Regions from separate parts of the Homo sapiens genome. Here region 1 is linked to region 2. Evidence: fine-mapped QTL for protein levels in blood plasma. A gene starts in region 2. The other region holds a variant in brackets. All regions are shown on one strand. Distances are from middle to middle.

Region 1 (2,998 bases), 40 kb after region 2:
GGCAGTGCTTATCCACTCTGTTAAAGAGGCTAGGACAAAGGAGAGCTTTTGCTTTTTATTTATTTATTTATTTAATTAATTAATTTATTTATTTATTGAGACTGAGTCTTGCTCTGTCGCCCAGGCTGGAGTGCAGTGGCATGATCTCAGCTCACTGCAACCTCCGTCCCTTGGGTTCAAGCGATTCTCCTGCTTCAGCCTCCCAAGTAGCTGGGATTAGAGGTGTCCACTACCACACCCAGCTAATTTTTGTATCTTTAGTAGAGACGGGGTTTCACCATGTTGGCTAGACTGGTCTCGAACTCCTGACCTTAGGTGATCCACCTGCCACAGCCTCCCAAAGTGCTGGGATTTACAGGTGTGAGCCACTATGCCTGGCCTTTTTTTTTTTTTTTTTTCGGCTTTTTGTCTCCTAAATGAGAATATATTCATTTTATTTCTTATAACTAAACATATATTTTGTAAAATAAAAGTAAGAATGGATGTGATTCTCCCCAGCTTCAAAAGGCTGTCTCTGTCTTTCCAAAATTGCCAACTTGGGAATCAGCTGCAGACATAGACGTGGAGGCCAGGTTCTCTTTGGCATGAGGTCTGGTGTTGAGCAGGCTCTAGGGCCAAGCCCTCAGAATCAGGCAGAGGGCATGGCCTGCCCTGGAGAAGCCTGTGCAGGAGTGACTCTGCAGGCCACCTTGCATGGGAGGCCCAGTCCCGACACCAGGGCTACAACCGAGAGACCATTTTGCTAAGGCCACCTGGCCTGACAGTATGGGAGTTTTAGGAGGGGGAAATAAGAGTTTGACATGGACTGGTAACAGTATATTTTTACTTCTGGGAGCATAAAATTAGTTCTAATTATAGTTGAGAGATCCCTGGGAACACAGCAGCAGGTGAAAAGCAGCTTTATTTCCTCACTAGAGCTAACCAGATTCCTGGAGCTGATCCTAAGGAAGAAGAGCCAGAGTAACTAGTGTAAATCTGTGCTACTGTTGCAGATTAACAACAACCTGAGACAC[A/G]CGGATGAAATGTTCTGGAACCACGTATCCATGTGCATTTTAAATGGAGGTGGTATCCGGTCGCCCATTGATGAACGCAACAATGGTATGCTCCCAGGCCCAGCTCCTCAGTGTGTCATGTTCTCTCTCTGATCTCCTTTTCTGTTATGGTTCTTGCCCTGAACACACCCATGTGCAGCCTCAGTTCATCTCTGCTGCCAGCCATGTACCAGAATGTCAGTCCTTTAAATTAGGGTTAGCCATTATTAAAGTCTAAAACCTAGCCTGAAGGACACACACAAGCTTGTGTGTTCTTATATGTATTCACACACAGAAGCTGCAGGTAAGGTTAGTGGAACTCAAACTTGGTCTGAATTTCTGACTTACAAAGCTATACTAGTTGTTTCTGATTTATGCAAAATAACAACAGTCACCACCTTGGCATCTGAAAAGAGACAAAATCACCAATCTTCTGTCCTGAAAAAGACATACCACTGGATTAAAATGTTACCTTAGTATATTTACAGATATCCAAGATTATATCATATGGCAAAACAAATCAACTACACAAATACTCAAGACACTCTTGTAGCCCTCCCTGATTTACTGTGAAAACCAATCAGTATCAGTATAAGGCCCCAAACGCATCCCATTGTCAGACAACAGGGACAGGTTGCAGGGGCACATTGTTTGTCTGGAGGAACGGAACAATGCAAAACAAACTACTGGAGATCCAGCCCCAAGCTAGCAGATCTAAGACTGAGCATGGTGAACTTCTGAGGCACAGCCATTTGTGAGCTCCCGCCATCTTGCCCAGTGGTGGAGTGCAGGGCCAGAGGCCTCCTAAACTCATTCCCTTCCTCAGTGTCAGGAACCACTTAGACATAGCTAATGATGCTCTATAAGCTTCCCATGTCCCCCTCATTTCTTCCCCCAGCGCTGAGGGAAACTGGTCATGGTGTAAGCATTTTCTCAAGCTATTTTCCTTCTTGCCTCATCTGTGACTACCCTCAGGCACAATTACCTGGGAGAACCTGGCTGCTGTATTGCCCTTTGGAGGCACATTTGACCTAGTCCAGTTAAAAGGTTCCACCCTGAAGAAGGCCTTTGAGCATAGCGTGCACCGCTACGGCCAGTCCACTGGAGAGTTCCTGCAGGTGGGCGGTAAGTCACCCATCCTGTAGGGCTGGCCCATCCAAAGTGACATGGCATTTCCTGCTGGTTGGCTCAGCTTCCCCTTCACCAAAATTCCTGTGGTCAAACTGGTTTGGATTTTTCCCGACCCAACACCAATACCTTACCCTTTAATGGCTGTGGACTCTCAGAGCCACTAAGATTAGGTTGGGGTCAAAGCCCCAAAGCCCCAAAGCCCTGGCAATAAGCAGTATTTGCCAAGTCTGATTTGGACATCAGATGGGCCCTCTAAGCAGGTCACCTGCTTTGAGGTCTAGTTTCTAATAAAATCTTATTTAAGCATTCAATTATTTTTTTTTTAAATCCTCTCCTCTGTTCTACTCATCGTTGCCTGGAACCATGCCAAGATTTAAAGGAATGCTGTCCAATCTGTATTAACCAGGATGATTCCTGGAAGGAGCAGCCTACTGCACAGACATACCTGAACACCTGGTTCTAGTCCCACTGTGACCTGGGGCAAGTTCTCAACCCCTCTGGGCACAGGGAGAAAACCTTTCCTGTTTATCTCATGGACTGCAGTGAAAGTTGAATGGAAATAAATGCTTCCTAAATTGCCAAGGGCTTCTGAAACACTTTTGTTAATAATTCCACAGTCCAGTGAATTAATCCTTTAAAAGCAATCTTATTTTACCTGGAAATCATAATCTGGCCTCATTTTTTTAACCTTAGGTTGTGGTCCCGCTTGACAGATAGAATTGCTTTCCTGAGTTTTCCTCTGCAGAACACATTGCTGTTGAGACTGAAGGGCTACAGAAGGCAGTGGGGCCCTGTCCTAATGCCTATGGGGCAACCCAAACATCCTCCATTTTCCC
Region 2 (8,528 bases):
GCCTTTATGTGAAATAGAGTTACAAATATAAAAAGACAAAAAAAAATCCTGCCCACTTGTGGAACTTTGAGCAATTAATTTAACATGTTGAAGCTCCATTTTATTACCCATAAAAGGAGAATGATATTGCAGCATTATCACAATAGTCAAGCTTTGGAATCCACCTAACTGTCCATCAATGGATGAATGGATAAAGCAAAAATGTGGAGAGTAGAATGGTGGTTACCAGGGGCTGCCTGAAGGGTTACTGGAGAGGCTGATCAAAGAATATAAAATTTCAGCTAGATAGGAAGAATAGATTCAAGAGATCTACTGTATAATTTGGTGACTATAGTTAATAACAATGTATTGCATACTTGAAAATCACTATGTGAGTAGATTTTAAGCGTTCTCACCACAGAAAAAGTGGGGGTGGGGAGCAGATAATAATATTTACCCTTCATGCTTTTGTGAAGACTTAACAATGTAACCTGAGTATTGGAATTCAATTGTGCTCAAAACCTGACTGCCACTTACTTGGACATGAATGATCTTAAGCAAATTATTCAGCCAGGTTAAATATCACATTAAGTTTTCTTACCAATAAGATGAAATATTAATAGTCATTTAACAGCATAATCCAAATGTGCCAGGATGCCTATGACAAGGTCCCTCTGTTTTCTTTCTTTTTTTTCTTTTTTGAGACAGAGTTTTGCTCTTGTTGCCCAGGCTGGAGTGCAACGGCGTGATCTCAGCTCACTGCAACCTCTGCCTCCAAGGGTTCAAGAGATTCTCCTGCCTCAGCCTCCCAAGTAGCTAGGACTCCAGGCGCCCGCCACCACACCTGGCTAATTTTGTGTATTTTTAGTAGACATGGGGTTTCACCATATTGGCCAGGCTGGTTTCAAACTCCTGACTTCAGGTCATCCACCCGCCTCGGCCTCCCGAAGTGCTGGGATTACAGGTGTGAGCCACCGCGCCTGGCCGGTCCCTGTTTTCACCCCGCATTCACCTAAAAGCAGGTCTCAGATTTTTAATTCAGCCCACCTAAATAAATCTATCTCAGCAAATTTAAAGAAAAATTGATATTTTATTAAAGACTTTGTGATAAGATATAAAATAGGTTCTCATCACAAAAGAAACTTAAATATATATTATCCATTAGATAGCTCCAGTGGTGTGCTGGTAAATGTTCAACAACTGACTCTTAAAGAAAAACGCATGCATTTATATACATACATATTTATTATAAATTTTTCTGATATAAAAGATTGTTACACACAATTTACTATTTGTAAATTTTACTATTGGTTCCTACAGACTGCTTTCATTGATTTTTGCAGAACTTTTGCAATCCATAGCCAACCTATGGTTCCGGCTGAACTGATTTGACAAATGGAGTTATATACCCATTTATTTTCTAATAAATCAATAACGTATTGTTATTGGATGTAATATGTAATCTATTATTAAAGTATTTGTCACCCTATTATATAATGAGTGTAGTACAGGCTATAGTCATTAAATTAAAACCTAGTTTTAGCACTAGATATATTGTTCATCAATGATGTGAGTGAGATTTTTCCTGAGTCAGAAAATAGTTTTCTAATATGTACTGAAATAATATTTTCTCAATTTGGGGGGCTATTCCCAATGTAATGGATATTAGCACCACACACTTTTAAGTTTATTCTGCATTATTTTGACATTTTCTTCATTACTTTCTTAAGTCTAATCAACTGATGAAACAATAAATAAAGCCCTGATTTGTATGTAAATTTTTGCCTGTATATTTTTCTTTCCTCATGGACTTGGGAAATTTTCTATGATCCTCATGGCTTTGCAGCTACTTACTGTATGCACCCTCACCTTGTTTGCAGCATTATCAGCTCCAGGACAGCCGAAATCCTTCTTGGTTCTTTCATACTATCGCCCACTGTGTCTAAAGTAGATTTTAAGTTAGTGTTACTTGAATTGCAAGTACTACTACCACTGAAGCAGCAACTCTGTTTCCATTGCTTGGGGAGAAGACCAAAAACACACATTAAACACCTGGAGAAAAAAAGTAAAACCACATTAAAGTGAGATTGTAGGAACTGACCAGAAATTTAGAAAAGAGAAAAACTCACTGCTGTGTGAAGAAGTCAAAGGAACTTCATGTTGACTTGAACAAGAAATTAAAGGAACCCCGGGCCTTGGCCTAAGGACAGACTGGAAATGGTGGTTTGGAGAGAAGAAATGAGGACAAAGGGAATGTGTGAGGAACAGTGGAAGGTAAAGTTGGCTGGATAAAATGAGACTTCAAAATGCCAGTTTGCGAAGCTTGAACTTGGTGCAATAAACAATCAAAGGCCATTTTAGATGTATATGAAAACAAATGGCATGGAAATGATATTGAAGCAGAAATCTGGTAGCATCCCCAGAACAGGAATTTCAGAAACTATTGCAGTGGCTTAGGTTTAAAAGACAAGAAACAACAAATGATCAGTTCCCCAGTGATCAGTGATAGGTCATGTTGATACCGTGTACCCACAGATACCAGGCAATGAGAAAGGCACATAATCTCTGTAGCATTCTTCCTAAACATCCACAGCTTCAGTCCAATCATGAGAAAACATCAGACAAACCCAAACTGAGGGATAGTATACAGAAACCAGTACTGTTCAAAAGTGTCAAGGTTTTTGAAGACAACTGACTGAGAAACTGTCACAGATTAGAGGAGGCTAAGAACACAGGAAAACTAACTGCAATATGGTATCCTGAATTGGGTCCTGGAATAGAAAACGGACATTAGTGGAACAGTTGGTGAAATTAAAATAAAATCAGTAACACAGTTAATAGTTTCGTATCACTGTTAAGTTTTTAGTTTCATTGGTTATATAAGCTGTTAACATAAGGCAATATGGGTGATGGGTATGTGGGAACTCCCTTTATTACCTTTGCAACTTTTCTGTAAGTCTAAAATCATTCTTTTTTTAAGTTAAAACAGCAAAACTACCAGTTCTTTTACCTGCTTCTAGCAGGTGCTCAAAGAGGGACAGAGCAAAACCTTGCAAAGCATGACATTAGAGGGTGTCCCAGAAGCAAGGGTCTTCTGTAGCCCCAGGCACTGCTGCTCCCAAACTGCATGGCCTTTCTTGGCAAATGATTTACAATCTCCGAACCTCAGGTCAATGTCTTAAAAACGGGCACAGAATGTCTTTTCAACAAATGGTACTAAGAAAACTGGATATCCACATGAAAAAGAGTAAATGTGGACTCATACCACATATGAAAATTAACTCAAAATGGATTAAAGGTCTAAGAGTTTAAATTATAAAACTCTTAGGAGAAAACATAGAGGAAAATCTTCCTAACATTGTATTTGGCTATGACTTCACTGCGACACCGAAAGCACACGCGACAAAATAAAAATAAAATAAAATAAAATAAGACCAGAAAAGCAAAGAAGGGCAGCATCCCTTCCCGTCCTGATAGCTGCCGGATTTTACCCCAATCGTGTTTCTGCTTCCAGGAGCTGTCCGCGCGTCGCCTCTGTTTTATCACTAAGGTTTTAATTGTGAATAAACAAGGAACTGGATTCGAATGATTTCTTAGTTTCTGAGATTTTTTTGTCTAAGCATCGTAGACTTCGTGCGTTCTCAACCCAACAGGAAGCGTCACATCTCAGTGAGCTTCGGCTCTCACAGCCCGAAACTGCAAGGAGCTCCTCTGCCCGGCCTCTCTTTACTCCTCCTCTCTGCCCCTCAGCTCGCTCATCTTTCTTCCCGCCCCCTCTCTTTTCCTTCTTTGGTTCTTTGAAGTGATGAGCTAGCGCAACCACAAACCATACATTCCTTTTGTAGAAAAACCCGTGCCTCGAATGAGGCGAGACTCAGAGAGGACCCAGGCGCGGGGCGGACCCCTCCAATTCCTTCCTCGCGCCCCCGAAAGAGCGGCGCACCAGCAGCCGAACTGCCGGCGCCCAGGCTCCCTGGTCCGGCCGGGATGCGGCCGGTACCCGCTCCCCGCCGGGAACAACCTCTCCACTCTTCCTGCAGGGAGCTGGTGCCAGCCGACAGCCGCGCCAGGGCCGCTCCGGGTACCAGGGTCGGATCGGGTGACGTCGCGAACTTGCGCCTGGCCGCCAAGCCGGCCTCCAGGCTGAAGAAGGACCCGCCCCGGCCTTGACCCGGGCCCCGCCCCTCCAGCCGGGGCACCGAGCCCCGGCCCTAGCTGCTCGCCCCTACTCGCCGGCACTCGCCCGGCTCGCCCGCTTTCGCACCCAGTTCACGCGCCACAGCTATGTGTCCCCGAGCCGCGCGGGCGCCCGCGACGCTACTCCTCGCCCTGGGCGCGGTGCTGTGGCCTGCGGCTGGCGCCTGGGAGCTTACGATTTTGCACACCAACGACGTGCACAGCCGGCTGGAGCAGACCAGCGAGGACTCCAGCAAGTGCGTCAACGCCAGCCGCTGCATGGGTGGCGTGGCTCGGCTCTTCACCAAGGTTCAGCAGATCCGCCGCGCCGAACCCAACGTGCTGCTGCTGGACGCCGGCGACCAGTACCAGGGCACTATCTGGTTCACCGTGTACAAGGGCGCCGAGGTGGCGCACTTCATGAACGCCCTGCGCTACGATGCCATGGTAAGACCCGAGCCCGCGCCCGGGATAGTAGTCCCGGACTGAGAGAGGAGCCGGGCTGGAAAAGCAGCGGATGGCAGAGTGTGGCAAGCCTAGGTCCAGGGCGCGGAGAGATGTGGGGATAAAGTGAGACTCCGGCCAGTGTGCCAGCTGGATGCATAGAAGTCCCTTGGACGATTCGTCTTAAACGGACGTTATTGCGCCCCCACTATGAGATGGGAGTATTTAGAGGAGCAGGACCCAGTCCTGCCTGCGAGGGGCTTAAGGTGGGGTGCGTAGAAGCACTGACAGTTATCCAGAGCTAGGGACTGAATCGGATCCCTCACGCAGCTCTCATTTACTGCTAGATCTTTCAAAGAATGCTTTATCTCAATCTAGATCTTTCGAAAAATGCTTTATCTCAATCTTATTGAAAGGGAAACCGCGTCGAAGAAGCTGAATAAATTAACAGGCACCATCCCCGCAAAAAGGGAGACGTGATAAGAATGGACACCAGATCTCTTTGACCCCGGAGCTTGAGAGTAATTAAGCTCACAGCTTTGGGGTAGATTCTCTGTTCAATTACCTTCTATGTGACCTTGAGCAAGTTATTTACTCTTTCTTGCCTCAGTTCTATCCTGTATAAAAATAAGGATTATAATTGTACATAGTGCACATAGTGTGGTCTCTATATTATTACCAGACACATAGTGTGGTGTCTATATATGTTGTTATTACCAGACACTATAATATAGGGTTAAGAAAAGGAAAGAAAGAAAGAAAGAGAAAGAAAGAAAGAAACTTCAGAGAGAGCCAAAATGTGGAAAGACTTGGGTTTCAAAGGATTTCAATAAAGTAGGTTTGGCGGCAGAGATTTAGGAAGAGTCCAACTTAAGAGATAATGGGCTCTTAAAACATGTGCAAAAGTTTAGTTCAAAGTCCCAAATGTTAGGTTAAAGGTAATGCCTTTTCTATTGCACTAAATTCTAGAAAGGGAGCAGAGGTGGTTGCACAGTAATAAATAAGTACAACCAAGATGTATATATGGTGGTTAAAAAAAAAATAAAACCACCACCCAAATTTAACCCTGTGTAAAAGCCTTGAGTAAAGGGATTCAGCAAGACTGTGGAGAAACTTGGGAGAAGAAAAAAGAGCTTTGGAAGAGGAAGAACTGAGAAATCTCCAGAGAAACGTCCAGAGAAATCTGTGAAGTCCACAAGTGTGGAAGGGAAAGGGAAGTGTGATTAGGCTGGGATACAGAAGGCTAACAGTACACTTTATATGAGAAGAGCTTAGAGGTCAGGAGAGCACAATGCTGAGGGGTTTGTTTGGTTTTATTTTCCCCTCTGGAAACTTGGAGAAAGGAGGACAGGAAAAGATGATAAGAGGGCACCATTGTTTGGTTTTAAAGGTCCCTCCCCAACCCCCCACAACAAGAAAGCTCATTTTAATGAGATGAGAGAAGGGGAGAAAGCTCCCTCCGTTCTGATGCTTTTGAGCTTATCAGGGACACCCTGCAGCAGAAATTCCAGCTGATCCTTCAGCCTTCAGAGTTGATGAGGTGGGGCTCACACACATCTGGATTTGAAGAAGAATCGTGGGTTTCAAGAACTCTGTGGTCTCTTAAGCATTGGTATTCCACAGCTACACTTCCCTGATACTTTGCACTCAGTAATGACAAAATAAATATTTGTAGAATTGAGTTGTTGCTACCCTGTGTCTCCACTTCCTCCCAGAAGGGTAGAATAAACTTACATGTGTTTGTTTTATTTTGCATATAAACCACGACTTTGTAAACTTTACTTTTTGTGACACTCTTTTCTCCACAATTGTGTGAACCCTTTTTAGTGGAAAAATAAGAATGAAGAATTCCTAGTTTTCCCTAATAATATTTCCCTCTTGTAAGTCTAGTTGAGCTCCTGGTGTTAATCATGGTATCAAATGTTTATGACAGGACATCTAGGTGAGGCCTGAGTAAACTGCTGTAAGTTACAGCCTATCTCTTCTGTGTTTGTTCAGAATCCTTTTTGTTGGATGAAATTACTTTCTTTCAAATTTTGCTCAAGAAAATTGAATTGGGTTCTGAGGAAAAATAGGCTACTTACGTAATGTTGGCAGGGGGTAAAGATTGGGAGCGGATCACATGGCAAGGTTAGATGGCTGTGTCCTCAGGACTTACTCTGTGCAGTTTGGGGGTGTGTCAAACATGATTTGACGTGCATAAAATCCCAGTTCTGTAGTGCTAAAGCATGTGCTAAAGCTCTGCTGTACTCCAGTATTGCACAGATGTTTCACTGTCAATTGTTTATATTATACTAACCCTCAGAGAATTTATTGCTGTTGTGGTATAAACGTTCCTCCACTGTAACCACTCACCGCATATTGATTCCTAGGACACTGGGGATTCAAATCAGGGTGGAAAACAGTTGTGGAGGGGCATCTCCAGTTTCCTGGAGACTGGACCTAGTTCAAAGGAGCCACATAAAAGGACTGAAGCATATGGAGGACAAAGAGGAATTTCCTAGAATCCAGCTAAAACACAGGAGTCCCCTCGAGCAGGAACTTCCAAGGAGGTGTACACTTTCTAGACCTACTGGAGTAATCCTGATTGCTGTAGAGGACCCAGGGCAATCCTGGAGACCCCCTGGAACCACTACTAGGCAGAAAACTGGGAAGAGGATGGCAAAACTCTCCAGTTAGTGTAGCTGTCTCAGTGGAAGGACTGTTGTCCCCTGAGGCACGAGGAAGACAGCATGGAAGCACTGACAGTATGCGCTTGGCCTGGTTACTTTCTCTGAGCTTCATGTTCCTTAGCTGTAAAACAGGAGTGATAACCCCCATCTTGCAGAGGTTTTGTGAGGAATACATGAGATAATCCCTGCTGGTGCTCACTGAAAGTGAGTTTCATGTGCCCTGGGTGGGGAGGAGGGGAATTGTGAGGAAGGGAAGGTTTGGGTTGTGCATCAGATTATCTGATTCTCACAGCCTGGCACAGTCTACCACCTGCCTGCCCTCTACCATCTTACCTAAGTACCATTGCCTAAACTATTTTTGCTATAGTTACTCATTGAGCAGACTTATGAAATCTCCCCACAGCACAAAACTGAAGGTATCCACCTCCAGAGGTGAGATTCTCACCAAGACAGGCTGTGGGGAAGGTAGCTTTGAGCAGGTCTCTAGGGTCCCCTAGAAAGGTGCCTTTTCTCTGCTTGGCTGCTGCTTCTGAGGCCCTGGCTGCTGAGCCCACTTCCTGCCCATAAGGCTGCAGCCTTAGCCCTAGCCAATTGCTCCTAAATGGGGGAGGCAGCAGCCAGGGTGGGAACCATGGCCCCCGCCTTTAACTCACCCAGGGGACAGGTTAGTCAGATAGATGGTCCTTTGTTCGCCACCCTCCACCTCCCACATAGACAACATTCTAATGTGTTTGATGGACTGCATATAGTTTTGTTTCTACATGCACTTTCAAAACCTTTGTGTGCTTATATTTTATAATGGCATACCCAGTCCTGTTATTTAGCCCTTTCTGTTTCTTACTTTTGTCCTGAACTTATTGTTTTTATGATTTGTCCATGTTGCCCTAGATGCCCTTATACCTATACATCACTGTGAATTGTGCTCTGTGTATTTTACCCATCTCCACGTATTTTACCCATCTGCTCCCTGGCTGATGGGTTTGGAGATGGCGTCTAACACCCTGCCTCCACAAATAATGCTGCTCCAGATATCTTCCTGGATGGTCTCACCAGATGATTTCTACCCAGGAGCAGAATTGCTGGCCACAGGGCATACTTTGAGTACTACAAGACTGGTTTCCTCAATGACTGACATCCTCCATTCTCTTCCACCTACTCCCATCCCCAAACAGGACATGTAAATTTCTATATTTTACCTATATATCATGGCAGTATCCAGCTTTATTGTAGGTGTAAAATACACATTGCTGCTTTATC

Alleles and levels. Alleles are on the strand shown, and positions count from the first base shown. The strength of an association depends on the size of the effect and on how common the allele is.
For the plasma level of the protein whose gene starts at base 4,207 in region 2, allele G in region 1 goes with a lower level than allele A (strong association).

Evidence for each region. PIP is the chance, under the fine-mapping model, that this variant and not a neighbour inherited with it causes the effect. The UK Biobank Pharma Proteomics Project read protein levels with antibody pairs (Olink). The fine-mapping took linkage between variants from a reference panel, not from the people measured, so its PIPs are less certain.
Region 1: its variant is fine-mapped to the plasma level of the NT5E protein (UK Biobank, PIP above 0.99). The variant lies in the coding sequence of NT5E. If it changes the protein, the assay may bind it differently, which can mimic a change of level.

The regions. Positions count from the first base shown.
Region 1 is chr6:85,488,502-85,491,499 of GRCh38, forward strand. It overlaps NT5E (5'-nucleotidase ecto), which reads left to right. Exons shown (of 9, transcript NM_002526.4): 6 at 993-1,098; 7 at 2,007-2,156. Among named protein-coding and RNA genes, the nearest start is that of NT5E, 40 kb to the left of the region's middle. The variant A/G (reference allele first, on the strand shown) is at 1,014.
Region 2 is chr6:85,445,877-85,454,404 of GRCh38, forward strand. NT5E (5'-nucleotidase ecto) reads left to right here and starts at 4,207. Exons shown (of 9, transcript NM_002526.4): 1 at 4,207-4,602. The coding sequence starts at 4,264. RefSeq lists a silencer at 4,000-4,269.